Homo sapiens: one gene and its partners. The protein of the gene in region 6 purifies or fractionates together with the protein of the main gene of each other region. This does not show direct contact. Each region holds a gene or a part of one and is shown on either strand. Other genes may lie near its edges.

Region 1 (3,927 bases), on a different chromosome or scaffold from region 6:
TCTGCCCAATACTCTTTGGGCCTCCCTGTTGTCCAGCTCTCTCCGCGGCTCCATGACTGACAACTTGAGCAAGGCTAATGTGAATGGGAGCGGTTGAGGGCTCAGACCTCTCACCCGAGGAACATCCACAGAGTGTGCCGCATGCCCGGTGCAGTGTGGCTGCGGGGACACAGACACGGAGCCTCGGCCCTGAGGAGCTGGGGGGCAGTGACCGTCCCTCCTCTGACCCACCACTCCTCCAGTGTCAGGACACTGCGGGTATCTAGGGGAAGGAATCTTGTTCCACTTCAAGTCTGGAACTTCAAGTCTGTGTGTGTGCGTGCGCGCGCGCGCGTTGGGGGTGGGGGTTGCAGAGCAGATGCGTACCTGACAGCGGTAACCTAGGTCCCCCCTGGCCTATCAAGGCTTCCCTGGCGGCCGAATTTAAAGGCATCAAGCAAACAAAGCCCAACACATCTCTGCCTTGTCCTCTCAGTTTCCCCCCGTGGCACTTAGAACCACTTGATACACCGAATAGTTTCCTATCTCCCCCACTAGGATGTAAACTCCACAGGGGCATTGGGAATGCTGCCTGGCTATGGTAGGGACAGAGGGGAGCACCAGGGCGGGGCAGGGGTGCCAGAGTTCTGCCTGGGCAGTCAGATTTTCCTTAGGAGGGGACATTTGAGTGGGACCCAAACAGGTGTATAGCAGTTGTCCAGCCCAGCTGGCAAGGCCTGAGTCTGCCTCTGCAACCCCTCTCTTGGGCTCCTTTCTCTGCCACCCACCTCCTCACCTTTCCAGGTCATCACAGTTGGGGCCACCAATGCCCAAGACCAGCCGGTGACCCTGGGGACTTTGGGGACCAACTTTGGCCGCTGTGTGGACCTCTTTGCCCCAGGGGAGGACATCATTGGTGCCTCCAGCGACTGCAGCACCTGCTTTGTGTCACAGAGTGGGACATCACAGGCTGCTGCCCACGTGGCTGGTAAGTCACCACCCCACTGCCTCGGCCACCGTGATGCTAACAGCCCCTTTGGCAGTCAGGGTCTGTGCCGGGACCTCCAGTGCCAGGCTCTGTGCAGGGGGACCAGAGATGAAGTAGGCCTGATGGTGCCTTCAAGGACACTCAGTCTGATGAGGGAGGCGAGTGCACAGAGGAAACACGAGGTCAGGGCTGTATTAGAGGGAGCCCAGAGGAGGCACCTGCCCAGCCCGAGGGTCAGAGAAGGCATCTTGGAGGAGGGACATTTGATCGGGAGCTTGATGGATGAATAGGAGTTCACCTGGCCGATAAGACAGCAACTACCAAGGCTTAGAGGTGTGAGAGGAGGCTGTCTTACCTCACTGAGTAAGGACTGCAGGCGGCTTACCTTCGAGAAGAGAGCTTAGTGTCTGTGTGCACGTGTGTTTGTGTGTATGTGTGTGCGTGTGTGCACTGGCAGGAGTCCCCTGCTGGGGCAGGAGGGCCGGGCCATCACCATCTTTCACCATTCACCCCTGCACCAGGCATTGCAGCCATGATGCTGTCTGCCGAGCCGGAGCTCACCCTGGCCGAGTTGAGGCAGAGACTGATCCACTTCTCTGCCAAAGATGTCATCAATGAGGCCTGGTTCCCTGAGGACCAGCGGGTACTGACCCCCAACCTGGTGGCCGCCCTGCCCCCCAGCACCCATGGGGCAGGTAAGCAGGATGGCAGGGTGGGCAAGTCCAGGCTGGGGCTTGGGAGGTCTGTGTGACCTTGACAGTCTCTCCCTTCTCCCTTGTCTGTGTAAGGAGGATGACGCCACCTTAAATAGGATTAAATGAGAATGGGGCTCTGAAAGGGCTGTGCAATATTTTCATAACGTGTTTTTATAGAGACAGTTGAGTATGTTCTTTAAGCCCTCCTCTCTCCTACCATGAACTAAAGATTTCTGTGGAGGTCCCCTCACTCCCAGCACCCCCTCCTCATCCCAGGCCCTTTTTGCAGGTTGGCAGCTGTTTTGCAGGACTGTATGGTCAGCACACTCGGGGCCTACACGGATGGCCACAGCCGTCGCCCGCTGCGCCCCAGATGAGGAGCTGCTGAGCTGCTCCAGTTTCTCCAGGAGTGGGAAGCGGCGGGGCGAGCGCATGGAGGTGACTGTACCCCTCCTTCGTGTGTGTGTGTGTGTGTGTGTGTGTGTGTGTGTGTGTGTGTGTGTGTGTGTCAGTGCTGGGCCCTCAGGGACCCCCAGCAAGCCCCTCCATCCTCCAGACTCCAGCTCTTCTGTAAGCTTACAGGGCTGGCCAGACCAGGAGTGGGGCACTCCTCACTTCACGCGGCTGGGGGCTGCTGGAGAGAGCCACAGCGGGAAGGGTTTCCTAGAGGCTGCAGGACAGTGCTGGATGGATTTTCAATGCTCACCTGGGTGTGAGCGTGCGGCAGGGCCGCGTGAGGGTCAGCGATCTGCTACTCTGGACTCAGCCATCTCTAGGCCCCTCTCACTCAGGTGCTCCATGGTTCTGGGAGCTGAGAAATCTCAAACCAGCAAAAAAGTGGAATTGATGTTGATGCTACAGGATAGTGCACAGATGCCATCTGGTTGCAGCATTTTGGTGGAAGGGCAGTGCCCAGCTAGGAGAGTGAGGAGGGGCAGGCATTTCTGGCTTGAGGAGATGGGGTCTTAATGCTCGTGTGAGAGGCAGAGTGGGTGGAGTGGAGCTGGCTGGATCCTTGCTTTGGCCTCCTGGATTTCTCTCTATCTCCATTTTGAAACCACTCTGTGTTTGGAAGAACTTTTGAGTATTCAGAGCTGCCCACTGGCAGAACAGTCTTCCTTGGGCAGGAGTGAGCTCCTTGTCCCCAGAAGGCTGGGTCTGGCTGGCCCCTGGCAGGGACACTGATGAGGGTGCTTGAGTTGATCCTGTCTAGTCCCTTTCTGTGTTTTCAAAGCCCATTCTAAAGCAGATTCCCATTTCCGTCTTTGACTCTAAGGCCCAAGGGGGCAAGCTGGTCTGCCGGGCCCACAACGCTTTTGGGGGTGAGGGTGTCTACGCCATTGCCAGGTGCTGCCTGCTACCCCAGGCCAACTGCAGCGTCCACACAGCTCCACCAGCTGAGGCCAGCATGGGGACCCGTGTCCACTGCCACCAACAGGGCCACGTCCTCACAGGTAGGAGGCTGGGCTTGCCCTGGGGTGAGGAGGGGTCTCTTTCTCCTTATGCACCCACTGCCCGCGAGGCTTGGTCCTCACAAGTGTGATCCATGAGACTCAAGCCTGACTTGCAGTTCCATACTCTGGTTCTGCCACTTCCATGCCCTTTGAGCCTGGGCAGGTGACCTTACTTCTCCTCATCTCAGCTTCCTCCTCCATAAGAGGGAAAAAGGTATTACCTGCCTCATTGTGTTGCAAGGAGATGGGCAGCATCTAGGGCACTGGCCTGGAGTATCGCAGGTGCTTTGCCTAAGGTGGTGCAGTCCAGGAGAGGCAGCTCCAGAGAGAGGCCCCCGGCTGGGGCTGAAAGGAGGGCAGACCTCGGTTTGAATTTCACCCTGCCGCTCTATAGCTGTGTGACTTGGGCAAATTACTTAACATCTCTGTATGAGGAAATGATGAGTGCTAAGCACTTAGCTTAGTGCCGGGACAATATAAATTCTAGCTATCGTTACTATTGTTTTCATCACCCGTTGCTTTAAAATCCAGCCTCTGGTATAGGCAACTATTGACGGGCTACCCTGTGTCGAAAACATGCCCAGGCAGGTAGCAGGAAGTCACAGATGGGGACCTCTTGGGGCATCAAGGGATGGTGCCCTGAGGCTGAGCTGTTCTGGTTGGGTGGAGCATGAGAGGTCTGGGAAGACAGTGGGACTCCAGCCTGGAATAAGAGGCTCAGAGTTGATTCTCGTCTGAGCACGTCCAGGGGAACCACTGAGGGTTTGGGAACAGGAGAGTGAGGGTGAGAACCTGGTTCTGGGCACAGCAG
Region 2 (3,927 bases), on a different chromosome or scaffold from region 6:
ATATATATGCAGTAGGTAACAGAACTGGCGCTCAAGCCCATGTGTGCCTGGCCTGGGCTCTTTCCTTAACTTGTAGTCCCTAGGGCGGGGGCAGAGTGTGTGTATCAGACCACCCATCTCAGATGTCCCAGGCATTCTGGCTGTGAATTATGTCCACATTGGGCTGGTTTTCTCAGATATGTTGGGGTAAGAGGGGCTGGATCACCCCTCACTGCTTCCGGGCCCTTTATCCTCCATCTCACCTTGGTGGAGCCCCTGCCTCGAGGCAGGCCCTGGACAGCAAAGGAAGACAGGAGCAGGCTGGTGCAGCCTCTAGACCTCTGACCTTCTTCTTCGGGTATCTAGGGTGCCAAAGCATCTCCTCAACCAAGACCCACTCCTGGCTGCCCGCCAGGGCCTGGGGCACTGGGCCTGCCCGTAAGCTCACCTTTCCAGCCTTTACCTCCCCAACTCCTGCTCCCGGCAGTCACGCCAACACCACCTTAATTTTAGATGTGACATTTCTAGTGAGGGGAAAAGCATTTGTTCCCAGCACTGCAGTGTCAGGGAAAGGCTGGGTGTGGGCAGCGGCCCCCGGGGGTAAGAGCTTTCATGCCCCTCCCTGAGGGGACACTTTCCCAGCTGGGATGTTTAGCGGAGGCCCAGCAGAGTGGCAGGTGCCAGAGGGAAAGAACCCCTCACCCCTATCCTGAGGGGAGAGAGCCCAGCTCCCGCCTCAGAGGTGCTGAGAGGCAAAGGGTCCAGGTGAGAGTCAAGGAGACACCTTGGGCCATCCTGGATGACCACTGCTGTCCTGGCCATTCAAACCCAAGCTCTCAGCCCTGTCCCCCAACCCCACTCCCTTCCCACTGAATCCGCGATCCCTCTCCTGTGTCACAGACTCTCTTCCACCTTCTCTTGTCTCTCTGACTCCTTCCAGCAGTATTTAGTTGTTGTTGTTGCCGTTGCTGCTGTTGTTGTTGTTGTTAGACAGAGCCTCACTCTGTCACTCAGGCTGGAGTGCAGTGGCGCAATCTCGGCTCACTGCAATCTCTACCTCGCAGGTTCAAGCAATTCTTATGCCTCAGCATCCTGAGTAGCTGGGAGTACAGGCGTGCACCACCATGCCCAGCTAATTTTCATATTTTTAGTAAAGACAGGGATCTCACCATGTTGGCCAGGCTGGTCTTGAACTCCTGACCTCAAGTGATCCGCCCACCTTGGCCTCCCAAAATGCTGGGATTACAGACCTGAGCCACCAAGCCCGGCCCCCAGCAGTATTGAAAACACACTTAAATTGTCTCTCTTCAAAAAAAAATTTTTTTTAACATGGGGTCCACTGTGTTGCCCAGGCTGGTCTTGAACTCCTGACCTCAACATCATAAAGCAAGACCCTCCAGCTCAGGCTGTAATGGCATTTATTCCCACCACCCCCTCACCCCCCACCACCTCCCACTACTTCACCCTCAGCCCCTGCATCCTGGCCTCTGCCCTGCATGTGCTAGTGAGCTTGCTTGTGGCCTGGTCATTATACTGGTGAGGATACTGGTTCAGCAGCTTGAACAGAGACCAAGTGACTCCAACAAGAAGGAAGGTGTGTTTCTCTCCTGTGGAAGTCTGCAGTGCAGGCCACTCTGGTGATTGGGTGGCTCTGCTCCATGGAGTGACCCAGGGATCCACGTTGCTTCCATCTTGATGTTCAGCCATCCCCCACAGTGTTGCCTGCCTGAGTTGCAGTCTAGACTGGCTCACCCCACTGAGTTGTCCTTCCAGCAGCTAGGGGATAGGGAATGGTGGAGCCAGGGCAGGCAGCTTCCTTGTAAAAGGCGACCTAGAACCTGCCCACATCACTCCTCACATTTCCATTGGCCAGAACTTAATCATATGGCCTCCCTCAACTGCAGGGACTGCTGGGGAATAGAGTCTATTTTGCTCCCAGTCCATTGGCCAGAGTGGTGTCATGTGACCTCTACCAGTTGCAAAGGAGGCTGGGGAATGTAGTCTCTGGCTGGGAGTCCATTTGCCCTGCTAAAACCAAGAAGGAGTGTGTGGTTCTGTTACTAAAAGGAAGAAGGACAGAATGTATATCGGACGCCAATTAACAGTTTTGGTCATGAATCACCCTGAAGTCTCAGGAATGCTTTCTGCTGGACGGCCAGAAAACCTAAGTAAAGCTGTTAGTGGTGGAAGGTATCCAAGTTACCAGCAGCTAATCCGTACGGGTCTGCAGCAACCCCAGTTCTTGCCTCCTCGGAAGAAAGAATTCGACTGAGGGGCATAAGGCAGAAAAAGAGACTGAGGCATGTTTCAGAGCAGAAGTGGAAGTTTATTTAAAAAGGCTTTAAAATGAGAAAGAAAGGAAAATATGCTTGAAAGAGTCCCAAGTGGGCACGTGAAGGTCAAGTGCTGTATTGATCCTTGATCCTAGGACTTTATAGGCTGGTCCCCTTTCCCATGATTCTTCCCTTAGGCTGGGCTACCCGCACTCACAGTGCCCTCCTTACCCTTGGGAGGTGAGCACACGCACTGTGTTTAGGAAGTTGCACACATGCCCATCTGACGCTTTCTTCCCTTTTCCAGTGGAGTGTCCCTGGAAGGTCAAACTCCGCCATTTTGTCTCTTAATGCACCTGCTCGGGAAGTCACGTCTCCCTGGCACCTGCATTCAATTAACATGTTAGTGCAACAGGTGTGGACCATCAGGAAATGCCCTCTCCCTAGTGCTGGCTGCCAATTTCTCACTTCTAGAGAGGCAATGTGATAATTGCCAAACCATCACCCAACATTCCTAGTGGGTGGGGGAAGAGCCCTCCCCTGCCCCACTCATGCTTGTCTAACTACCTGTAACAAAGCGACTTGAGTCTTAAGAACATTTACTTAACAAGATGGGGATAGTTTGGGACTGGTTCTGCAGTACCTTGATATCTGTGATTCTCATGTCCTTACCCTTGTGGTCACGATATGGCTGCCATAGCTCCAGCCATCATGTTACCAGACACCACATTCAAGGCAGTAAAAGGAAGAGAGGGGGCTTTCTATACCCATAGTCTATTCTGTTGGATAAACTTAGACACACTAAAATGTTAGCATTTATTTGAACAAACAGTGATTCCTGAATCAGGAAGTACTAGACTGTGAGCAGTTCATGGCTCCACTAAGGGAATATGAGAGGGAAACGTCTATAAGGTGCTCCTGAAAGCAAGACAAAGAAAACATTTGCCTACAGTGAACAGTCCCTAGTTAGAGGTTGGTTGGCAGTTTCCGATGGGTCAAGCTTAAGTTCTCTTTTCCTGTTTCCACCAAGTTAGATTTGGGTTTGCTGACAGAGGAACTCGAGGCCTGGAGCCGGCTCAGCCTGATGGCCTCCCAGTTCATTACTTAACAATGCCCCTCCAGCTGCCAGACAGAGAGAACCAATATCTGACAGGAGGGAGTAAGCGTGCCACATTTGGCTTAGATCAACTGTGATTCGTCCCTTGAGGCTGGGCATGGTGCACCCTGAACAGAGGGAAGGTTCTGCGAGTGAAAAAGGGGTGCTGACTTGGCAGCCTTCAGCCTGCCCCCACCGGCTGCCCTGTCTGGTGCGAGGCCGTACCCTCCAGAGCTCCTGGCTCCTCTCAGTGCGGTGCTGTTGCCCACTCCCTCCTTCATCCTGCAGCTGGCACTCCCCCTGTGCTCCCCCCACCCTCTGGCTGCTCCTTCTCCATCCTCTCTGCTTACATATGCACAGCCTCCACCCACACTCCTAGTCCACGCTCCCCCTGATCCCCTCTCACCTCTGCTGTGCACCTGATGCCAGCCCCACTCCTCACCTCCCACAGTCATCCCCTGCCCTGTCTTGCTTGGCCTTGCTCATAGGTCTGACTGCTGCTCGGTCCCAGCATCCCAGGCCTCATCTGAGGCTCAGCCAGGGTCCCCAGGACTGCAAGTTCATCAGTGAAAGGCAGTT
Region 3 (3,927 bases), on a different chromosome or scaffold from region 6:
TGGGATGCTGGACATAGCTCACGTGGCTTTAATATTACTGCTGAGAACTTTAAAAATTACTTTATAGAAAAAACGATTAGCAAAATGCAGAGATTTGGTGAACTACCAAGAAAAAAAAACTTAATATTTAAGTTAGATTCAAAAACTGCAGGAAAAACAAATATCTTTTAAATTGTTTATGAGAACAAATTAATAAGCAATACATGCTGTTTGTAGACTAAAGCCCTAAACGCCTAAGTCCACTGTGTGGTTAATTTCTGAATGGTGATGTGAACCCAGTGTGGTATACACTCCCAGCCACAGAGCACGATGAGGCAGCTGTGAGGGGTCTTGACGGTAACTCAGTAATAACAAAACCTAGACCCCTGCAAAGGTGAAAAGTCAACTGCGCTTGAAAAATACTTTTAAGTTGAACACAGGTATTTTATTCAAATTAAATGGTGTAACTGGAGGAGGATAAAGGGAATTTCATCTGGGGGAAGGTTATAGGCGGTGGGAGTGAAAAGAATAGGCTCAGAAAACAGACGTGCCATGCACAACTCAATTCTCTAGCCTGCTGTATCCTGTTCTCCACTCTGCCTTCTCTTCACCAAAATTCTCATTCATTTCACCCTTCTGTTTCAAACGGAAAGTATTAATAGGAAGACAGCAATCCTTTCTACCTAAAATAAAAGGTATACAAACTCCTAGGTCTATGGTTTTAAAACATGTAATTCTCCATGAAACTCCTGTTTAAAATAAATGAAATCTCACACACGATGAAGTATTCACCACGGTGAGAGAGTAAAGCCACCTGGATTTGAGTGGAGTGGTAGCTCATGCCTGTAATCCCAGCACTTTGGGAGGCCGAGACAGGTGGATCACTTGAGATCAGGAGTTCAAGACCAGTCGGGCCAACATGGTGAAACCCTGTCTCTACTAAAAATACAAAAAATTAGCTGGGCGTGGTGGCACACTCCTGTAATCCCAGCTAGTTGGGAGGCTAAGGCAGAAGACTCACTTGAACCCAGGAGGCGGAAGTTGCAGTGGATCGTACCACTGCACTCCAGCCTGGGTGACAGAGAAGACTCCATCTCAAAAAAAAAAAAAAAAAAAAAAAAGAAGCCATCTGGATGAAAAAGATCAAAAATGGCAGAGGAGAAGTAAGGGGAGGCTATAAACTAAAAATGAAATTTGGGTTGGGTGCAGTGGCTCATGCCTGTACCCAACACTTTGGGAAGCCAAGGTGGCTGGATCATTTGACGCCAGGCGTTCAAGACTAGCCTGCGCAGCATGGTGAAACCCCGTCTCTACTAAAAATACAAAAATTAGCTACACGCCTGTAATCCCAGCTACTATGGTGGCTGAAGCACAAGAATCACTTGAACCTAGGAGGTGGAGGTTACAGTGAGTTGAGATCACACCACTGCACTCCAGCCTGGGTGACAGAGCGAGACTCTGTCTCATAAATAAATAAATATCCTAAGTCCCCCAACTGAGTGGGCCCCCTCTTGGCCAAACGGAACCCCAGAGAAACCTGAAAAGCTGAGTTCCCAGCAGTGATGTGAAAGGAGATTGGACATGCCTCACTATACTTTCTCTTTTGGAATTTAGACACAACTGACCAACGTTAATATTAAAACAGAGATCATAAACAGGACCTAGGGTCGTGCCAGACAGGAGCTAAGTCACATCCCTCCAAGTCATTCTGACCCAGTGTATTGGTGAACAGACTTCCTTGTCATAACTTAGATTCCTTTCTGCTGACTCCAAAGTTTTACACAAAGATTTACTCCTTTAACCAATTACAAAGTAAAAAATCTCTAAAGCCAGGGAGGTCAAGGCTGCAGTGAGTGGCAATTGTGCCACTGCACTCCAGCCTGTGTGACAGAGAGAGACCCTGTCTCAAAATAAATAAAATAAAATACAGAATCTCTTAACCCGCCTATACCTGTGAGCCCCCACTTCAAAATAGCCTGTCTTTTTGGGCCAAACCAATGTAAAAGCCCTATATATTGATTTATACCTCCTTGTAACTTCTGCCTCTCTAAAATGTATAAAACTAAACTAATCCGCCTGCCTCGGGCACACTTACTCAAGGCTTCTTGGTTTTGTGTTTCCTGGGGCTGCAGTTACTCATACTGGATCATAATACACCTCTAAAATATTTTAGAGTTTGGTTTTTCAGTTAACAAGGCCAACCTCAAGAATAACCATCCCTTAACCACCACATAGATATTACATATGCTCTGATGAAATGCAAATCAAATGGTTAAGACAGGATGGGTGAGACCAGGCATCCTCATGCTCGATAGCTTTCATTTGGCTTTACCAACAGCACCATTTTCCAAATCCCCTTTGCCTTCAAGATAAGAAACTGACACCCAGAGAAGTTACGTCTTTGACTAAAATCCTCAGAGATCACTAGCTGGGACACACTAAAGCTACAGTCTTTCTAATTACACGCTCTCTACTGCCTGTCAATTTGTCTGGTTCGTGTTTCATCTTAAGAGCTCCCACATTCTACTGCTATACCTGAACAATGACTATGAAAAACGATTTTCCAGAAAAATAATTGAAATTCAAAGTTGACTCACCACTAGAGCTTAACTCACGGGATGAGATTTCATTTTATCTTCACGTTATTGCATTTTTTCCAAGTTTTCCATGATTTTTACATTTAAAAACTTGCAACTTTTAAAAAGAAATGTAACCCCTTTTAACATAACTGTTTCTCTATATGCAAATATTTCTGAAAACAAAATGTTCAGTGGCACTCTAACATTATCTCTGCACCCAAAATACCTGGCAGACAGTTCTGAGATATCAGAGATGCAGCGTATTAAATTACACATGATCATCTCCAACATCTCACTAGTCTTAGTACTGACGTAAAATTGTTGGAAGCACCTTAGCTTGACTAAAATGCACTGGAATTTTTTTTTCTGAAGTAATTTCCTTCTACCTAAAATACTTAAGATTTATATAATATAGCTGGATGGTTATGCAATTTTTTATCCTAATCAATGTTAGCCCATTAGGCAAGTGTTTCAAATAGAAACAAATTTGGTGAAAGCTTAGCACTTACAAAGCTCTATCAGGAACACTAATCACCAAACCCAAGGATATTCTTTGAATAACAAGGAGCTAATACCCAAAAGAGAACAGGAGAAAAGAAGTAAGACCTCTTACACTGAGATGGATTAGAACTTACACGGCTTTGCATGGCTTTCCAGTATAGGGGTTTGTCTCAGTGTGCTTTCTTGCTCGCTCTTGTGGGTGCCAATAGGCAGCTAAAGTGGTCTAGTTCAAGGTCAGCAGTCAAACTCATGATGCTTAGCAAATTAGCAAAAAATCAAAAAATGTATTTCAAAGCAAGTCTCCTCTTTCTGTTGAAGCTGTCCTAAGGCTTACCAATTTACTGAAAAGGCTTTAAGTTATAGCAACAATATACCAGACTCACATGCCAAATGCCTCAGAAATGTGCTTAACCTATGAGATGGCAGATGAGGGGAAAAAAAAAACTAAGTCTGTTTGCTGTGGTGATGTGTAAAGCAAAATAAATTCTATAATACTCAGCATCGACAGGAAGATCATTCCATGTGCACATAATAAAATTCATGGCAAGATTTTGCAGCATTCCTGTAACAGTGCTGCTGTGCTTTTAACGTGTCCACCAAAAGCACATTTTGGTAATTTAATCCCCAGTGCAACAGTGTTAAAAGGTGGGGTGATTAGGCCATGAGGTGAAGTAAATGGATTAATGCCATTATCAGAGGAGTGAGTGTGTTATCGTGGAAGTGTGTTCCACATAGAAGCACGAGTTCAGTCCCTTTGGTCTCTCTCTTGCTCTCTCTTTACCCATCCACTACGTGATGACATAGCAAGAAGACCCTCACCAGGTCACAACCCCTTGATCTTGGACTCCCCAGCCTCCAGAACCATGAG
Region 4 (3,927 bases), on a different chromosome or scaffold from region 6:
TTGGAAGTCCAAAAATCAAGACTGAGGGAGAACGCGTGTGCACAGTCAGTCCAGCCAGTGGCAGATGGCGCTTTTCTCAGATGCCTTTCCTGACACGGTCACGCTTTTGACACCCGGGGGGAGACGGTGACACTGGATCTGGCTCAGGACGGGGCAGGACCCTCCCCTTTGCTCCGCGTGGATCCCCTTGAACCTGGGGTTCCTGCTGGGTGCTTGAGGGCCGGCAGCCCTGAGATCTGACGGAGGGGGCGCTGCCTGCCCTCTGTGCGTGTGGGGGCTTCACCATAAACGGCTCGGTGTCCAGGAATAGGGCAGGGCTGTGGTGCCCCAGTGGGGCCCACGTGGGGTGGGAATGTGAGGCAGGGTGGGGCCGAGCAGTAACACTATCCTCACAGCAGCACCCCCGGAGCCTGCACTGGGGAGGGCGGCAGCGTGGCGTCACAGGACTGGGCCAGCAGCTCACATCCACCCTGTCCTCCCTTTTTCAGGCCTAGGTTCACTGTCCCCCAGGCAGCTTCACGGCTGTTTTTACACACCTCCCATTGTAGCTGTCTCACCGGGTCATCGGTGACCACGGTGTCCACCATGTTACCGAGAGCTTCTCTGTGCCCCTGGACGAGTCCTAAGGCTGTGCTGTCTCCGGACTTTCTGCAAAGGACCCTGTAAGGCTCCCAGCCTCCCCGGCCTCGCAGGCACCTTCTCTCCCCGGCCTCCCGGCGCTGGCCTCGCAGGCACCTTCTCTCCCCAGCCTCCCGGCGCCGGCCTCGCAGGCACCTTCTCTCCCCGGCCTCCCGGCGCCGGCCTCGCAGGCACCTTCTCTCCCCGGCCTCCCGGCGCCGGCCTCGCAGGCACCTTCTCTCCCCGGCCTCCCGGCGCTGGCCTCGCAGGCACCTTCTCTCCCCGGCCTCCCGGCGCCGGCCTCGCAGGCACCTTCTCTCCCCGGCCTCCTGGCGCCGGCCTCGCAGGCACCTTCTCTCCCCCGCCTCCTGGCGCCGGCCTCGCAGGCACCTTCTCTCCCCGGCCTCCTGGCACTGGCTTCGCAGGCACCTTCTCGGCACATCTCTCTCATTTCTTCTTCACTGGCTGACTCTGAACTGAGTGACCTGCATGGCCATCCTGAGAGGTGGGCCTCTGCCCGCACCTCCGCCCACCCCGCCCACCCATCCCTGCCCCGGAACCGGAGGAGCCTCAGCTTGTCCTGACGCTGCCATCTGAGGCCGTCTGCTTGCTTTCAGCGTATGCCTGTCTGAAGGTGCAGCCACAGCCACCCCAACGGTAAGAGCCAAGACTTACTGTAGTCCAGGCTGTAGAAGGCGAAGCCGCTCCCGGGGTAGAAAGAGCCTCTCTCCGTCACCGAGAAGCACTGCATCCTCGTGTTCACTTTCACCGTTTCCTGGATGGTGGTGTCTTCTCCGTTCAGCCAGTTCCAGCTCCTCATGCAGCCATCCAGACGAGGGTTTATCTGGAAAGGCAGAGAAATCTCCGTGGCTTCCTGGGAGCGAGAAGCCCCATGCCGGATGCCCCAGTCGGTGGGTGGCGCCTTCGCGGCCCTGGTATGTGCAGCTCTACGGCAGAAACGGGCCAGTCCCATCGGTGGTGGCCATTTCACAGAAGGTTTCTTCACTTTACACAACGCCTCACTGCAGAATACCTATTTCCACTGGTGTATGCTCAAGAACTAAAGGTTCATTTTAAAGCTAGGAAAGGACTGAAAAGGCCATGTGGGTCTAAGGTCAAAGAGTATGGATTGTTCAACCATCCAACACTCATGTGAATTATTCAATATTCAATATGGCTGTGGGCAAATCAGGGCAACCCCCTTATCTGTGAAACGAGGAGGGTCCAGCCAGGCAAAGTCCCGGCACCAGGCTGTCTGTGGGCCTGGGAAGCAGGTGCCCCTCACAACACCGAAGGTCCCGGCACCAGGCAGTCTGTGGGCCTGGGGAGCAGGTGCCCCTCACAACACTGAAGGGGTGGCTTCAGCACAGGCACTGCCGACACTCAGCACCCAAAGACGCGAAGACATGCGTGCCTTTCTCCTGCCTGGTGTGGAAGTGAAAATACCCAGGATGACGGCTTAGACGTCAGCACGTGGGGGCTGGAGACACAGGTCGGGGGCACGGGCGTGTGCTGTGCTGAAGGGGAGAGAAGGCGGGACCTGGAGCAATGGCCCACACTGACCGCCCATCATGGCTGTTTTCCCCTTATGAGACTCACGGCAGAGTTACAAAACCCAAAATGTTCTTGGAAATTGTCCAAAAAAGTTTACTGTTCTGTTAAAGAATAATTTCGGCCGGGCGCGGTGGCTCACGCCTGTAATCCCAGCACTTTGGGAGGCCGAGGTGGGCAGTTCACGAGGTCAGAAGATCGAGACCACGGCGAAACCCCGTCTCTACTAAAAATACAAAAAAATTAGCCGGACGTGGTGGCGGGCGCCTGTAGTCCCAGCTGCCTGGGAGGCTGAGGCAGGAGAATGGCGTGAACCCGGGAGGCGGAGCTTGCAGTGAGCCGAGATCGCGCCACTGCACTCCAGCCTGGGCAACAGAGCAAGACTCCGTCTCAAAAAAAATAATAATAATTTAATTGTGTCTTATCTCCATTGAAAAATAGACAACTTTATTATCAATTCAGATGAAAACTTAGGTCTCATAAAAAGAGATGGTAAAATTAATGACATAGCTGTACGGCGACTTTGTCAAACTCTAGGAAACCTTTCCTTCCTCTAGGTCCTCCTCACACCTGGTTAATGGTAAACACAGGGCAGGGTGTGACTGAGGCTTCCTGACACCGTTCCCGGGATCCCAGCACACGGCGCGTCTACACAGGGACAGGTACAGTACTCACAGGCTGCACGAGGTCCTTCTCATGGAAGGGAATACCTCCCACGGTCAGGTTCAGATGATACAGTCCTCGCTCCGGTTGGAACAAGTCCCCGGCCACCGCGATTTTCATGACAGCATCCCTGTTGACCTTGATGACCAGATTCCGCGCCAGCTCCTCAACAGAGATCTGAAGAGAGGCAGCGCCATGAGAAAAGATGGGAGTGCACGTTCTGAAGGGGCTCCCAACTGAGAAAAACCACACTCATCCTCTCCTGAGCCAAGAGGGTCCCGACCTCGGGGAGGCCACCTGATCCTCACCTGGGCCAAGAGGGTCCCAACCTCAGGGAGACCACCTGATCCTCCCCTGAGCCAAGAGGGTCCCGATCTCAGGGAGACCACCTGATCCTCCCCTGAGCCAAGAGGGTCCCGACCTCAGGGAGACCACCTGATCCTCCCCTGAGCCAAGAGGGTCCCGATCTCAGGGAGACCACCTGATCCTCACCTGGGCCAAGAGGGTCTCAATCTCAGGCAGACCACATGATCCTCACCTGGGCCAAGAGGGTCCCGATCTCAGGGAGGCCACCTGATCCTCACCTGGGCCAAGAGGGTCCCGACCTCAGGGAGACCACCTGATCCTCCCCTGAGCCAAGAGGGTCCCGATCTCAGGGAGACCACCTGATCCTCACCTGGGCCAAGAGGGTCTCAATCTCAGGCAGACCACATGATCCTCACCTGGGCCAAGAGGGTCCCAATCTCAGGGAGGCCACCTGATCCTCACCTGGGCGAAGAGGGTCCCAATCTCAGGGAGACCACCTGATCCTCACCTGGCCAAGAGGGACCTGACCTCAGGGAGACCACCTGATCCACACCTGAGCCAAGAAGGTCCCAATCTCAGGGACACCACCTGATCCTCACCTGGGCCAAGAGGGTCTCAATCTCAGGGAGACCACATGATCCTCACCTGGGCCAAGAGGGACCTGACCCGGGGAGACCACCTGATCCTCACCTGGGCCAAGAGGGTCCCAACTTCAGAGAGACCACCTGATCCACACCTGAGCCAAGAGGGTCCCAACCTCAGAGAGACCACCTGATCCTCACCTGAGCC
Region 5 (4,705 bases), on a different chromosome or scaffold from region 6:
AACAGACTGAACAGATACACTTTTAAAAGTCAGCAAGGGTTACCACCCAGGTGGACATGCTTGTGGGGCACCTTCATGGAAAGGAGGGCAAATCCCAAGTGGATAAAGGGACTCACTGAAGGGGGGCGCAGGTGCACTGGAGGGTTGTTGAGGCACCAGCCCACACACCACAACTCTGGGTCACCAGGACAAAATGCCCGGCTCCTGTATGAAAGTCAGGAAGGGCTTCGAACCCACTGGCAGGTTAACTTTCCTTTCCCCACCTTGCAGGAGAGACGAACCAGGTGTGACCGCACCTGCGATGCCCGGGCTGACAGCAAGTGGGAAAGTTCATGGTCCACATTTATGAGCACTGGCTGATAAAGACGGGGCGCTGGTCCCGCCTCCCCCCACGGAAGGGAGGTTTCATCATCTCCTACTTAACTGCTTAGAAGAAACACCCAGCAACAGAGGCCGTCGATGCAGTGGCCAGTGTCATGAGGGGCAACTTTCCAGCTATCGGGGGATGAGAATCCACCCAGCACACCAGCGCTCGCTCCACCCTGTGCTTCGTCAGGACAGCTGGTAAAAAGTCACAAACACCGGAGGGTAGCAGGCAGGCCAGCGCACTCCGGTTTCCACAGCGAGTCTCTGTCACTGATTCGTGACGTGTGTGGATCAACGGGGCAGTGACCACAACAAAAGGAAGTCTCACTTACGCCCCAGAAACACAGCCGGGCCCCGTGTCCCCTCCAGATCACACCCGCAGCTCCAGCAGCCCCCACAGCTGCCCTCTGCCAGGCTCTGCAGGTGTGTGTGTGTTGGGGGGGGTCCCCTGTGTGTGTGTGTGGGGGGGTCCCCTCTGGGGAGTCTGAGGCCAGGACTGGCAACGATGGCGAAGAGGGCCTCCAGGTAGACAGGAGGGTGCGCAGGTCCTGGAGGGCAAAGCACTCCTGTCCCGCTGCTGTCACCTGCCTGGAGGAGCCGCCCGCCCCTGGAGGTGGAGGGGTGGCCTCCCCGCCACCCTCGGCTGCCTACCGCGCCCTCCCTTCGGGCTCCGGGAGGCGCCCCCTCCTACCGGGCACACAGTCCCCTGACACCCTGAAAAGGGCGCCGGCCCCTTCTCGACACACTCGGCCTGGGTGGCGGGGGCGGCGTTTCTGGCTTCGGTCTGCTGGAGCGGAACGCCCCGGGCCTCGGTTCGGGGATGCACCGACCCGCCGGGCAGAGGCAGCGAGCCGGGGCTGAATCACTCCGCGGGGGCAGGGGCGGCCCCAGAAGAGCCGTCGGCCTCGGAGGCTCCCGGCGCCGGCGTTCCCGGCCGACCCCCCCCAGACCTCCATCCGCCCGCGGCCCCGCTCGGCCGAGAAGGGAGGCGGCCGCTCCCGGGACAGCCGGGCACCGCCCACGGCCCTCGGGGCGACTCTGCCCCCCAGCGCCACGCCCCTTCCCCCGGGGAGGCTCCGCCGGGGGCGCTGGGGGGCGACTGTGGCTTCGCGGGGACCCGGAACGGAGGCTGCGGCTGCGGGGAGACCTGCGCCCGCCCCGCGGACACCACCCGCCCCGCACCGGCTCTGCCCCGACCTTCTCGGAAAACAGCTTCGCTCGACATCACCGCGTGACTCGGCCCGCGGCGGGGGCGGGGGCGGGGGCGGGGGCCGCGCCGAGGGGAAGCGGGACCCAGGCCCGGGCCAGCCCGGCCACGGCTCTCCGGGAGGCGCGCGTCACTCGGGTCCCCGCGCATCTGCGAACCCCGGAACTGGCGACTGCGAGGCTCGCGCAGGGCGGGTTCGGCCGCGGTGCCCTCGGCGCCCTGGGCTTCGCGTGGGAGCGGCGGCGGCTCCCGAGGGGCAGTCGCGGTCGGCGCCGCTCTCGGCGGCCACGCTTGAGTCAAAAAAAAAAAAAAAAAAAAAAAGTCCTCGGCCGCCACCGCGGGTGGGGGGGGGGGGGGTCGCCCAGCGCAGCGCGCGCCGCGGCCAAGGGCGGCCTGACCTTCACGGGGCAGGGGCGGGGGGCCCGGCCGGAGCCACACTCGGCCCGGCTCACAGGTGCCCGCCCGCGGCTCCCCGAGACGGAAGTGGCCCCCGCTGCGGTCCGCGCCCGATCCCCGAAACCGCCGCTCCCTCCCGCGGCCGTCCCTTCCCGCTCTGGCCCGGGGCGGCCTCGGGGCGCGCAACTCCCGGAGCCTGCCAGGAAGGGCCCGAGGACCGACCCCCGCCTGCCCCCGGGATGGGGTCGCGGGACCGGCGGCCCCCGAGGCTCGGACACGCGCGGAGCCGGGACCCACCCGGCCGCGCTGCAGGCGCGCCTCCCCCGGGCGTCCTCCGGGCCGGGAACCGGGACGCCGCGGGCTCTTTTGTTCTAGAACCGGGGGCGGGGGACAGCGGGCACCGGACTGGGCCTGGAGAGCGGCCCCCGGAGCCCCTGCCCCGCGCCCGCCCCCGGCCGCGCCCCCGCACGCTCGGCCGGCCCGGGACGGGAGGGGACGCGAGGGGAGGGGGCCGGGCCGGGGTCGCGCCGCGCACACTCACCTCCCCTTCCAGCTGCACCGGTCGCTGGAGTACTGCGCGCCCGCGCCGCCCAGCAGCCCGGCCAGGAGCAGGAGCAGCAGCGGGAGCGGCGGCGGGGGCGGGCCCGGGGCGGGGGGTCGCGGCCACGGCTGCCCCGCGCGCCCCCAGGCCGCCCGCGCCGCGCCCCGCATGCTCTGGCGCCGGCTCCGCCGCCCGGCCCCGCGTCCGCGACCCCCGGAGCAGACCCCGGAGCCGGCGAGCCGGGCGGGGGCGGGGCGGGCTTCGAGTCCGGGTGGTCACGTCGCGCGCCCCCCGCGTCCTCCGCGCGGCCGCCCGCCCATCCCGGCCCGCTGGAGCCGCGCGCAGAGCTCCGCGCCCGCCGCCGCCGCCGAGCCTCTGAAGTTGGCGAGTCCGAGTCCGCCCGGCCGGGCTCAGCTGGGGGGTGGGGCCCACCCGCCGCCCCGCCCCGCCCCCGACCCCGCCCCCGACCCCGCCCCGCGCCGGAAACTCCTCCCGGGGCGCCCGGCCGGACGCGCAGACACCGAGTCAGCAGCGAATCGGGGGCGCGGGCGCCGGGGCGGGGGGCGCTGCAGGAGGAGGGGGCCGCGCCGGGCGGCGAGCGGGGTCCGGAGGGAAGAGCCCGGCCTGGAAAGCGGAGTCCGGGGCCGGAGGGGTTGCAAGGCGAGGGCGGGGCGGAAACCCGAGACCCCCAAGTAGTGGCCGACGCGAGCCGCGGTCGCCCCCCGCAGACCCCCGCGAGGCGGTGCCGGGGCCGCATCCTGCGCCCCATCCTGCGCCCCATCCTGCGGGCAGCCCCGGCGCGGAGCGGTAAAGGAGGCTCCCGGCCCCGCCGGTTCTGGGTCCCCCGCGCCTCGCCAGCGGGCGGTGATCAGGGGCGATCCGGGCGCCCCGCGTTCCGCAGAGTTGGTGCCTCGGGAGTTCCCGGCTCCCTCCTGACCGGGGGGGAGGCCCGGCGGTGAGCCCGGCTTCCCTCCCTCCTCCCGGAGGACGTGCAGCCGCCGCGCCGGGGCCTCTGCCGAGCGCTGCCCACTCCTCGCTCCGGATACGCGGGGCCGGGTGGTTCTTGGGGTGGGGACGTCCTGCGCATGGTGGGATGTTGGCAGCACCCTGGCCCCCGCACTCTGGGTATCAGTAGCAACCCCCGCCCCAGCTTTGACAACCTAAACTCTCTGCAGATTTGGCCAAATCCCGCCCCCACCCCGTGCCCGCGGGGCAGAATCACCTGCGGAGCGTCCTGCTCGAGTGTGTTCCTCGGAGTCGGCGCCTTCCCCAGGTGGTCACCGCGGCCACCACGTGCCTGACCCAGTGGGGGGGACAGCGGAGACCCCCGCCCGGACTGGGGAGGCCCTAGAGACTCAGGCCAGAGAAGGGGAGCCAGAGGGTGCCGAGGGCCCCCCAGGCAGGAGAGGGCGGAGCTGGCCCGCCCGGCGGTCCCCGCTGCGATGGCAAAGCTGGCTTCTGTGTGCTGCGGGTCAGTGGCCCTGCCCGAGACGCCTGGTGTCAGTTCCAGAGCCGAGCGCAGCATCCAGCGGTGGGGAAGCTTGGCCTTGTCCCCTTTTCCAGCCAAGATACCTTCCAGGAGGACTTGCGAACGACCTGTGCAAGTCTGAATAACTGGGTTGTGACTACCAGAGGAGGCGGGGAGAGGGCTTTGAAAATTGTGAGTCTGCAGGGACGGAAGTCACCGGCAAAGGCAGGTGGAGCCCAGCCCCCAGCCCAGGAAAGCTGGGACAAGGGTGAGGGTCTGAAGAACTGGAAGGCGATGACAGTGACCACTGAAGGTAGTTTCATTGTAAGGATCTGTTCAGAGCACCCACCCCATCGAAAGCCTGGAGCCAGGACCTTGCCCAGCACATCAAGTGACATCACCCTGAGGCTCAAGGTCTGGTGGAGGTGCATTTCGGAGCTTGGAGACTGCCCCACCCACCCCCGTCTGCTCTAGGAGTGCACCTCCCCCCACCCCCATCACTGCAGGTACCAGGGTGCCCAGTGGAAAGGGACCTGCTGTGGAAAGGGACCTGCTGTGGAAAGGGACCTGCGGCTTCACACCTGTGCGCAGCAACTGCTTTCCATGCCCACCAAGCATAAGATAGCAGCCCCCCCAGGCCCGGTCCACCCTTGAAGGGCCACATGGCCTATCAGGGTCCAGATCATCACACCACGGAAGAGGCAGGGCAGTGCTGGGATCTCTTGAG
Region 6 (3,927 bases):
TTTTTCCTAGGCTCATTTTGGCCTCATTTCCATAATGTGTCTCATGATCTCTGAAGCACCTTGGCATTAGCATCATAAGCACAGCTGTGAAAGTGTCCAAGACTATTGTCATCACCCGGTAAAGGCACATTTCCCAAGCCCTGCCCTGCCTAGCACTCTATGCTGCCACGACTGCTGAGTGGAGTGGCCCATTAGGTGGGTGCAGGTGACACAGATAGATGTAACAGAGGCCAACACACCTTTGCTCCACCACCTCAGCCATGAATCCGCCTCCGCTCAGGTGTGTCAGCATCATACCATCCTCAGTGGGGTTCTGTGAGGGTGAGGCAGGAGCTCTGCCCCTTCCCACTTGGTGCCCAGGCCTTTACAGCCTGGACTGCTCTCACGCCTTTGTCTTCTAGTGTTGCAGGCACTTGGCAGGTGTCTAGTCCAAGCCTCCTCCTCTCCTCCCTGTGCAACCTAAAGCACATTCCTGACCTCACATAACTCCAAGTGGGCTCTCGTAGCTCAGGCTATGTGGGCCTGTTCCCATCTGCCTGCAAGCTGCTTCTGTCTTCTACACACTTCCTAATTCATGTATACCCATTTTGTACACAAATATTTGTATACAATAAATACTTCCACAGGCCATGGCATGTACTATTTACCAGGGCCACATCAATCAACCCAGGATGTGCATTCTGACCCTTGTATCTTCAAGCATCTGGGAGCCATTGAGCATTTTCTTGGTGCAGGGCACAGTGCTAGGTGCTAATACATAAGCGCATAAGACAGCCATAGCCGCTGCCCTAATGGTTCTTACCGTCTAGTGGGAGCTGGTACTTCCCTTCTTTTCTGACTCAATCTCAGCCTAAAGCATGAATCCTTGGCCCCAGCTCCACAGACATGTTCTGATGTCCATGCAGGGGCTTCCTTGTCTTGCTCAGAGGTGTTCTGGACAGGCAAGACATGGGATGCCTTCCCATCAACAACTGCCCCAGGCCAGAGTTTGTGTCCTTGTCACGCTGGAAGACATTGCGCTGGTGTCTGCCTGACCACATTCTATGCACAGCACAGCCTCCTGATTCATGGGACTCTGTGCAGAAGGGTAAACATGGTCCTTGTCACAACCTTGCAAAGGCCCGTCCTATGTGGAGACCTGGGTAGTGCCCTGTTGCCTGGTCCCTAGTGAACCTGTACCAGCCAGGTTTTAATTTGACCTGCCTGGATTCTACTCCCCAAGGAGCTTCCTCTAAGGGCAGGGGTCTCTGGAGGTGGGACACAGAGTATGCATCACCAAAATGCCACTGCTGCTATTTTGTTACACACCAGTCTTTGTCTTTATTTCCTAAACATATGTAACTTGTAGACTCAGCACCCAGGTCACTTGTCAAAAAGGCATTGGAAGACCCATCACAAAACCCAAAACCACAGGGCAAGGGCCCTGTTCCTACCTTTGAGGAAACAGTCCTTGCTGTGGATGACGGTGATCCTCTTTCCCAGGAGGCAAGCAGCACGGTGGAGCTTACAGTGGTTTTCATAAAACCTCCCATCAGAGCCGCACACAGGCACGTAGCTGGGCCTGCATGCCTCCAGGCACTGGCATTCGGGCTCCCCTGTCTTCCTGCTGAGCACGCACCGGCTCCCTCGGCTGCAGAACTTCTTCCCGCAGGAGGCCAGCAGCTCGTTGTGGCTGGAAAGCCCTGCCAGACACACAAACACAGAGGGTCAGCTGTAAACACTCAGAGGGTCTGGGGTCGAGGGCTTCCTTTGTAGCTCACAAGCACAGACTCCATTTGCCTGTGCAGCCAAGCTACTCAAGGTGGGGCCTGGGGGCTTGGGGTCTCCTAGGGAGTCCCTGTCCCTCCATGAGGTGGTCATTGGTGCCAAGAAGGGTGTCCTGCCTTGCAGAGCTCAGGTTTCATGGCTGACTCACTCTGAACATCTGAAACACAACACCTTTCCAACCTAGGACCCAGCTGGGGGCTTTTGATCAACTCTTGGTTCTTTCTTAGGCTTACTTTTCCTGCTTCCAGTTGAAAAATGAAAACACCCAGCTATTCCGTGCTCACAAAGAAGCACCTTGCACAGAAGGACAAAGCCTGCCACTACTGCTCCCAGGCTCACAGTCAGCCTCCTGGACTAGAGGCCTATTAAAATCAATGACTTTTTAAAAAAGTGGTCCCCTCCACCCCCTGCCTGCAATACGTTTTCCTTCCTTCCTTCTTTTCCTTTACTATGTCATGACTTTGGACCAGGCTGTGTCTTAGGCACCTTAGGGGTCTCAAAGATGAACAAGTCATACCTTTCCCTCTTTCTGACTTTGTCATTCTGTAAGGTGGTGACATGTATGCAGATCAGGCAAAGAGCATGGGAGCCAGGGAGCTAAGTTTGGAAGAAGTAACTGGGAGTGGCGGAGATCATGGAGCGGGTGATGTGCCAGTGGGCCCTGCAAAGGAGAGAAAGGTTTTCCCAGAAACACAGCAGGCTTGAGCCAAGACTCCCCCAGCCGCCCTGTGGGTGGCATTTGCAGGTCTCAGGTAGAAGACTAGATGTGAGTAGGAGTTTTGTACAGTGGTGGGGTTGGGGGTCAAGGTGTGATTTCTGGGAGACTTGGAGAGCCAAGCAGAGAAATTTAGGTACACTACTGTAGGCACTGGGGAGTCACTGCAGGGAGGAAACGTGGCATAAGAAGAAAGTCATGCTCCAAGTGTTCAGGATGGGGGTGGGGGTAGCCGAGGTAGGGAGACCAGAGGCTGGCCATTTCCTTGGGGGAGAATGTGGTTCTCCATGACACACGTCATCAGGGGAGACACCAGCAGCCTTTCCCCACAGCCCAGTCCTTTCTAGCACAATGTTGCAGTTATGGGCAAGAAGGCTGAGCCCCTGGAAACGGGCGCTGCCACATTGCTTGAGTGTCCCCTGCACCCTACAACACCCACAGTGATCTCAGGCAGCAGCACCCAGAGCTCACACACCAAAGAGGTCAGGGCAGCTGGAAAGGGCACGTTTAAGTGAAAGGCGAAACAGGCGTCCATCACCAACATCACACTGCATTCTGGGAGTCTGGAAATGAGATAATCAGCACATGTCACTAAAGGTACAGATGGAAAGTTGAGAATTACACAGGGACACCAAAAGACAACTGAAATGTGAATACAGATTTTTACAGCCTCAGAAGACTTTGCTTTAAGTGTTAATTAAATCTCCATCAAAATACTCAGCAAGACAGAATGGCCCTAGTAATCATGACCAAACTTTTAGCCCCGGGTCCTACCCATGGGATTAAAATGTCTAAGCAAAAAAGAAGAAAAAAAAAAGAAAAAAATATATTTTTCTTGTTTTTGGTTAAGTCTGCTTTTCATCATTACAGATTTGAAAGGAAAAAAAATCAGTTATCGGCAGATTAACTGCTTGATTCAATAATTCATTTAAATTCCTCCAGCCTTGGCAAACTAAGAAGTATTGACTTTTTCTTGAATCATAATAAACTAGAAGGTCAAATATCTCTGAGCAGTATAAAAGTGCAGATCCTAAGGAGGCGGGAATCTCTTTTATCCACTTTGCTAATTGTTCGCATGTCACCATGAAGGCCCAGTGGCATTCAGCGGCCCCTCTGCACGCCTTCCTGTCAAGGTTGATGGTGGCGGGGAGGGAAGGAGGCGGAAGGCAGGCAGGCGCCTGGCAGGGAGGCTCTGGGCTGGAGGCCCCCCACTCACGGTGTTTATGGCCGCTTTGCCATGGAGCATATTTGATTAGCGTGATTCTCCTGGGTTGTTGGAAAATGGGTTACCCTAGAAAGTGCTGGCGCCTACTAGAAGAAACTAACAGCTCTGAAAATATCAGCCTTTGTTTCTCTCCCAAGACAGGGCCAGGACGCAGAGCATTGCCATGGGATCACTGTTTTAATAACCTTCCCATGCAGATAGGATGCAACCCACTAATTGC
Region 7 (3,927 bases), on a different chromosome or scaffold from region 6:
GTGAGCATGTGGATGAGGCCCCTGCAAGAACCGAGAGATGGGGTCAGCAGTGCCTGGCACTGAGGCCTCTCCCAGGGTTCTGTGACACCCGCTGCCTCAGGGAGGGGTGGGGCTGGTCCCCAGCCTGACACCCTGCAGCAGGGCAGGTGGGCCCCTTCGTGGGAACTTCCTATCCATCTCTGGATGTAGCCCCAACAACACTGTCTCATGCCCCAGTGGGCCCCCTAGAGTGGGGGCCTGTGCAGTACCCCAGGAATCCCCAGAAAGAGGGGCTCCAACAACCAGAGACAGCCCCACGTGTGTACATCACACTTTAGACACCTAAAGACATGGCAGATTAAAAAAAAAAAAAGCTGGGCACGGTGGCTCACGCCGGTAATCCCAGCACCTTGGGAGGCCGAGGTGGGCAGTCACCCGAGGCCAGATCGGCTTGGCCAACATGGCGAAACCCCGCCTCTACTAAAAACACAAAGATTAGCAGGGTGTGGTGGCAGGTTCCTGTAATCCGAGCTACTCAGGAGGCTGAGGCAGGAGAATTACTTGAACCCAGGAGGTGGAGGTTGCAGTGAGCTGAGATCGCACCACTGCACTCCAGCCTGGGCTGAAGAGCATGACTCTGTCTCAAAAAAAAAAAAAAAAAAAAAAAAAAAAAGGACACACCAGGTAAGAAAAGGCCCCCAGCAGGCCCAGGACACTGATCCGAGGGTGGCCGCAGGGCACTCCAAGGGCCCCACCTGCCTGGTGTAGCTCAGGGAAGGAGAGGGCAGGGCACCGGGCAGGGCAGGAGACAGGGAGCAGCAGTTAGGCCTCCTCTGGCCCCTGGAGGTGGAGGGGGCAGGAGCATCTCAGAGCAGGCTGGCAGTGTTCCCCAAGGGATGGCACTAGCCTCCCTCCTAGCACGGCCTAGGAGCAGCCGTCAGGACCCCAGGCCGGCCGTGTGCACACGCTGGTGCCCATGAGTCTACCCTGCAGGTGGCCTCTGCAGAAACTGGCCTGGAGCACATGCTGCTGCAAAGCTGGGTTTCAGGGTGATACGTCCACACTGGGCAGGCTCTGGCTGTTACCGCACGTAGGAGACTGTCACTCTCACGCTGCAGGCCCCTGGGAGCAGCCCCATCTGGGGAGGAGACCCACCCCTTAGGGGATGACAGGAGGACTGAGAGTGGGGCAAGAGCCGGCCCCTGGTGGCCCCAGGTCCCGCCCCACTCCAGCACAAGCCTCTGTGGGGCTCAGTGAGAACCGGGTTAGGTCAGGACGAGGTGACGGTTCCTCAGCCAGTACCCAGAGGCCCTGGTGCTCCCAATGGTGCCAGGACCAGGGCCTGGCATGTGCAACTGCTGCATAGTGGCAGCTCCTGTTTCCCTGACATGGCCCAAGTGGGACTGTCATTTTCCAAGCCAAGCCCCCGTCAATTCCTGGGTAACTCTGGCCCACATCATCTGGTGTTAGTTCTGCCGGCTGCAATGCAGGTACAGTCCTCAGTGGGGAGCAGTGTCTTTGGGCAGCCCGTCCTCACGCCTCTGCAGCTGTGTCCACAACTCTATGGGTACCAGAGGCTGTCACACACTGTGCGCCACTTAGAGGTGGTGGTCAAGGAGGGTGCTGCCCCCGCCCCTGAAACACCAGAGCAAAGTGAGCAGAGTAAGCCCTGCCCAGATGCCTGGGGAAGCTGACCCTACCTGGGGGTCTCCTGCCTGGTTCCCAGCCTGTGGGCTCTATGCTGTCTGCAGGTACCCACAGCTCCCCAGGATGGTGGTGGGATGGCCTTCCTCCAGGGCCACACCAGACCTGAGGGCCAAAAGGTGCCCCCAGCCACTCTGTGAGGGGCCCAGGGAGCCTGGGTGTCCACCCACAGTCAGGCTCACGGTGTGGCCCAGAGCTGGCCTTCAAGGAGGACAGGTGTGAGTCAGGTCTACCCAGGCCCCCAGGAGACAACATGGGCCCCGGAGGCGACGTGAGCTGCAGCTACAGTGCTGCAGCATTGCCCGGAGCGCTCCTCACGACAGACCCCCTCATACTGCCAGCTGCTGGCACTGGTGGCTCCGAGCGCCCCTAACACAGCCCCTCTGGGCATGCGGACAACTGTAAGGGGCTGATCCAGAGCTCAGGAGGGACCAGAGGCAGCAACATCCCTTCTAAGGGCACTGCCAACAAACTCTGCAGGAAAAGCTGCCCCTGAGCCTCTGTCCAGGGCCCAGTGCATGGGACCGAACCTGCTGAGCCCAGTCTCGGGCCTGGCACAATGCGGGCTGGGGTCCCAAGTGGTGGTCAGAGGCAGGACTGTGCTGAGGCAGCTCCCAGGCAGCAGAATGCCCAAAGGAATCTGCCAAGCTGCTCTGAGGAGCCTGGATACTGCCTGCCCCTGCCATGCTGGCAGCTCCCGACCTTCCTGCAGCTCCCCACCTTCCCGCAGCTCCCCACCTTCCTGCAGGAGCCTGGACACGAGGTGCTCGCAGGCTGCTCCCAACCGTCCTCCCCTGCAGTGGCCACTCCGGCTCAGCAATCCCCCTACTGCCTCCTGCCCTCCCACCCTGACGTTAATGACCCGTCGAGCCCTGACACAACGAGGCCGTCTCAGCACCCGCAGCCTCCACCCCAGACACAACGAGCCTGTCTCAGTGCCCCCAGCCTCCACCCCAGACACGAGCCTGTCTCAGCACCCCCAGCCTCCACCCCAGACACAACGAGGCTGTCTCAGCACCCCCAGCCTCCACCCCAGACACGAAACTGTCTCAGGGCCCCCAGCCTCCACCCCAGACATGAGGCTGTCTCAGCACCCCCAGCCTCCACCCCAGACACAACGAGGCTGTCTCAGTGCCCCCAGCCTCCACCCCAGACATGAGGGTGTCTCAGCACCCCCAGCCTCCACCCTAGACACAACAAGCCTGTCTCAGCACCCCCAGCCTCCAATCCAGACACAACGAGCCTGTCTCAGCACCCCCAGCCTCCACCCCAGACACAAGGCTGTCTCAGCACCCCCAGCCTCCACCCCAGACATGAGGCTGTCTCAGCACCCCCAGCCTCCACCCCAGACGTGAGGCTGTCTCAGCACCCCCAGCCTCCACCCCAGACGTGAGGCTGTCTCAGCACCCCCAGCCTCCACCCCAGACACAATGAGCCTGTCTCAGTGCCCCCAGCCTCCACCCCAGACACGAAACTGTCTCAGGGCCCCCAGCCTCCACCCCAGACATGAGGCTGTCTCAGCACCCCCAGCCTCCACCCCAGACGTGAGGCTGTCTCAGCACCCCTAGCCTCCACCCCAGACGTGTGGCTGTCTCAGTGCCCCCAGCCTCCACCCCAGACACAATGAGCCTGTCTCAGGGCCCCCAGCCTCCACCACAGAAACTAAGCTGTCTCAGGGCCCCCAGACTCCACCCCAGACACGAGCCTGTCTCAGCACCCCCAGCCTCCACCCCAGACACGAGCCTGTCTCAGCACCCCCAGCCTCCACCCCAGACACAACGAGCCTGTCTCAGCACCCCCAGCCTCCATCCCAGACACGAGCCTGTCTCAGCACCCCCAGCCTCCACCCGACACAACGAGCCTGTCTCAGCACCTGCAGCCTCCACCCCAGACACGAGCCTGTCTCAGCACCTGCAGCCTCCACCCCAGACACGAGCCTGTCTCAGCACCCCCAGCCTCCACCCCGACACGAGCCTGTCTCAGCACCCCCAGCCTCCACCCCAGACACGAGCCTGTCTCAGCACCCCCAGCCTCCACCCCAGACACGAGCCTGTCTCAGCACCCCCAGCCTCCACCCCAGACACGAGGCTGTCTCAGCACCTCCAGCCTCCACCCCAGACAAGAGGCTATCTCCTGAGGAGCCTCTGGTGCCATCTCACTGCCTACCTAATGCTCTGAAACGGAAATGAGTGTGGCAAATCTCTGGTTAATAGACCCACTCTCCCAGGATTAGTGAGAAGGCTG

Evidence for each region.
Region 1: the proteins of FSTL4 (region 6) and PCSK9 purify together in Homo sapiens (affinity purification with mass spectrometry; one large-scale study listed by BioGRID and IntAct). This does not show direct contact.
Region 2: the proteins of FSTL4 (region 6) and MAN2B2 purify together in Homo sapiens (affinity purification with mass spectrometry; one large-scale study listed by BioGRID and IntAct). This does not show direct contact.
Region 3: the proteins of FSTL4 (region 6) and UXS1 purify together in Homo sapiens (affinity purification with mass spectrometry; one large-scale study listed by BioGRID and IntAct). This does not show direct contact.
Region 4: the proteins of FSTL4 (region 6) and GAS6 purify together in Homo sapiens (affinity purification with mass spectrometry; one large-scale study listed by BioGRID and IntAct). This does not show direct contact.
Region 5: the proteins of FSTL4 (region 6) and METRNL purify together in Homo sapiens (affinity purification with mass spectrometry; one large-scale study listed by BioGRID and IntAct). This does not show direct contact.
Region 7: the proteins of FSTL4 (region 6) and CHID1 purify together in Homo sapiens (affinity purification with mass spectrometry; one large-scale study listed by BioGRID and IntAct). This does not show direct contact.

The regions. Positions count from the first base shown.
Region 1 is NC_000001.11:55,056,548-55,060,474, forward strand, and holds part of PCSK9 (proprotein convertase subtilisin/kexin type 9 isoform 1 preproprotein), read left to right. Parts: exon of another isoform or gene 1-258; intron 259-783; coding exon 784-967; intron 968-1,488; coding exon 1,489-1,662; intron 1,663-1,951; coding exon 1,952-2,100; intron 2,101-2,896; coding exon of another isoform or gene 2,897-2,938; coding exon 2,939-3,116; intron 3,117-3,927.
Region 2 is NC_000004.12:6,581,391-6,585,317, forward strand, and holds part of MAN2B2 (epididymis-specific alpha-mannosidase isoform 1 precursor), read left to right. Parts: intron 1-3,927.
Region 3 is NC_000002.12:106,145,697-106,149,623, forward strand, and holds part of UXS1 (UDP-glucuronic acid decarboxylase 1), read right to left. Parts: intron 1-3,927. UniProt on the Homo sapiens protein: Catalyzes the NAD-dependent decarboxylation of UDP-glucuronic acid to UDP-xylose. Necessary for the biosynthesis of the core tetrasaccharide in glycosaminoglycan biosynthesis.
Region 4 is NC_000013.11:113,825,703-113,829,629, forward strand, and holds part of GAS6 (growth arrest-specific protein 6 precursor), read right to left. Parts: intron 3,010-3,927; coding exon 2,845-3,009; intron 1,463-2,844; coding exon 1,294-1,462; intron 1-1,293. UniProt on the Homo sapiens protein: Ligand for tyrosine-protein kinase receptors AXL, TYRO3 and MER whose signaling is implicated in cell growth and survival, cell adhesion and cell migration.
Region 5 is NC_000017.11:83,077,791-83,082,495, reverse strand, and holds the start of METRNL (meteorin-like protein isoform 1 precursor), read right to left. Parts: upstream 2,888-4,705; 5' UTR 2,681-2,887; coding exon 2,511-2,680; intron 1,351-2,510; exon of another isoform or gene 1,058-1,350; intron 562-1,057; exon of another isoform or gene 425-561; intron 1-424. UniProt on the Homo sapiens protein: Hormone induced following exercise or cold exposure that promotes energy expenditure. Induced either in the skeletal muscle after exercise or in adipose tissue following cold exposure and is present in the circulation.
Region 6 is NC_000005.10:133,399,305-133,403,231, forward strand, and holds part of FSTL4 (follistatin-related protein 4 precursor), read right to left. Parts: intron 1,683-3,927; coding exon 1,434-1,682; intron 1-1,433.
Region 7 is NC_000011.10:893,499-897,425, forward strand, and holds part of CHID1 (chitinase domain-containing protein 1 isoform a precursor), read right to left. Parts: intron 22-3,927; coding exon 1-21.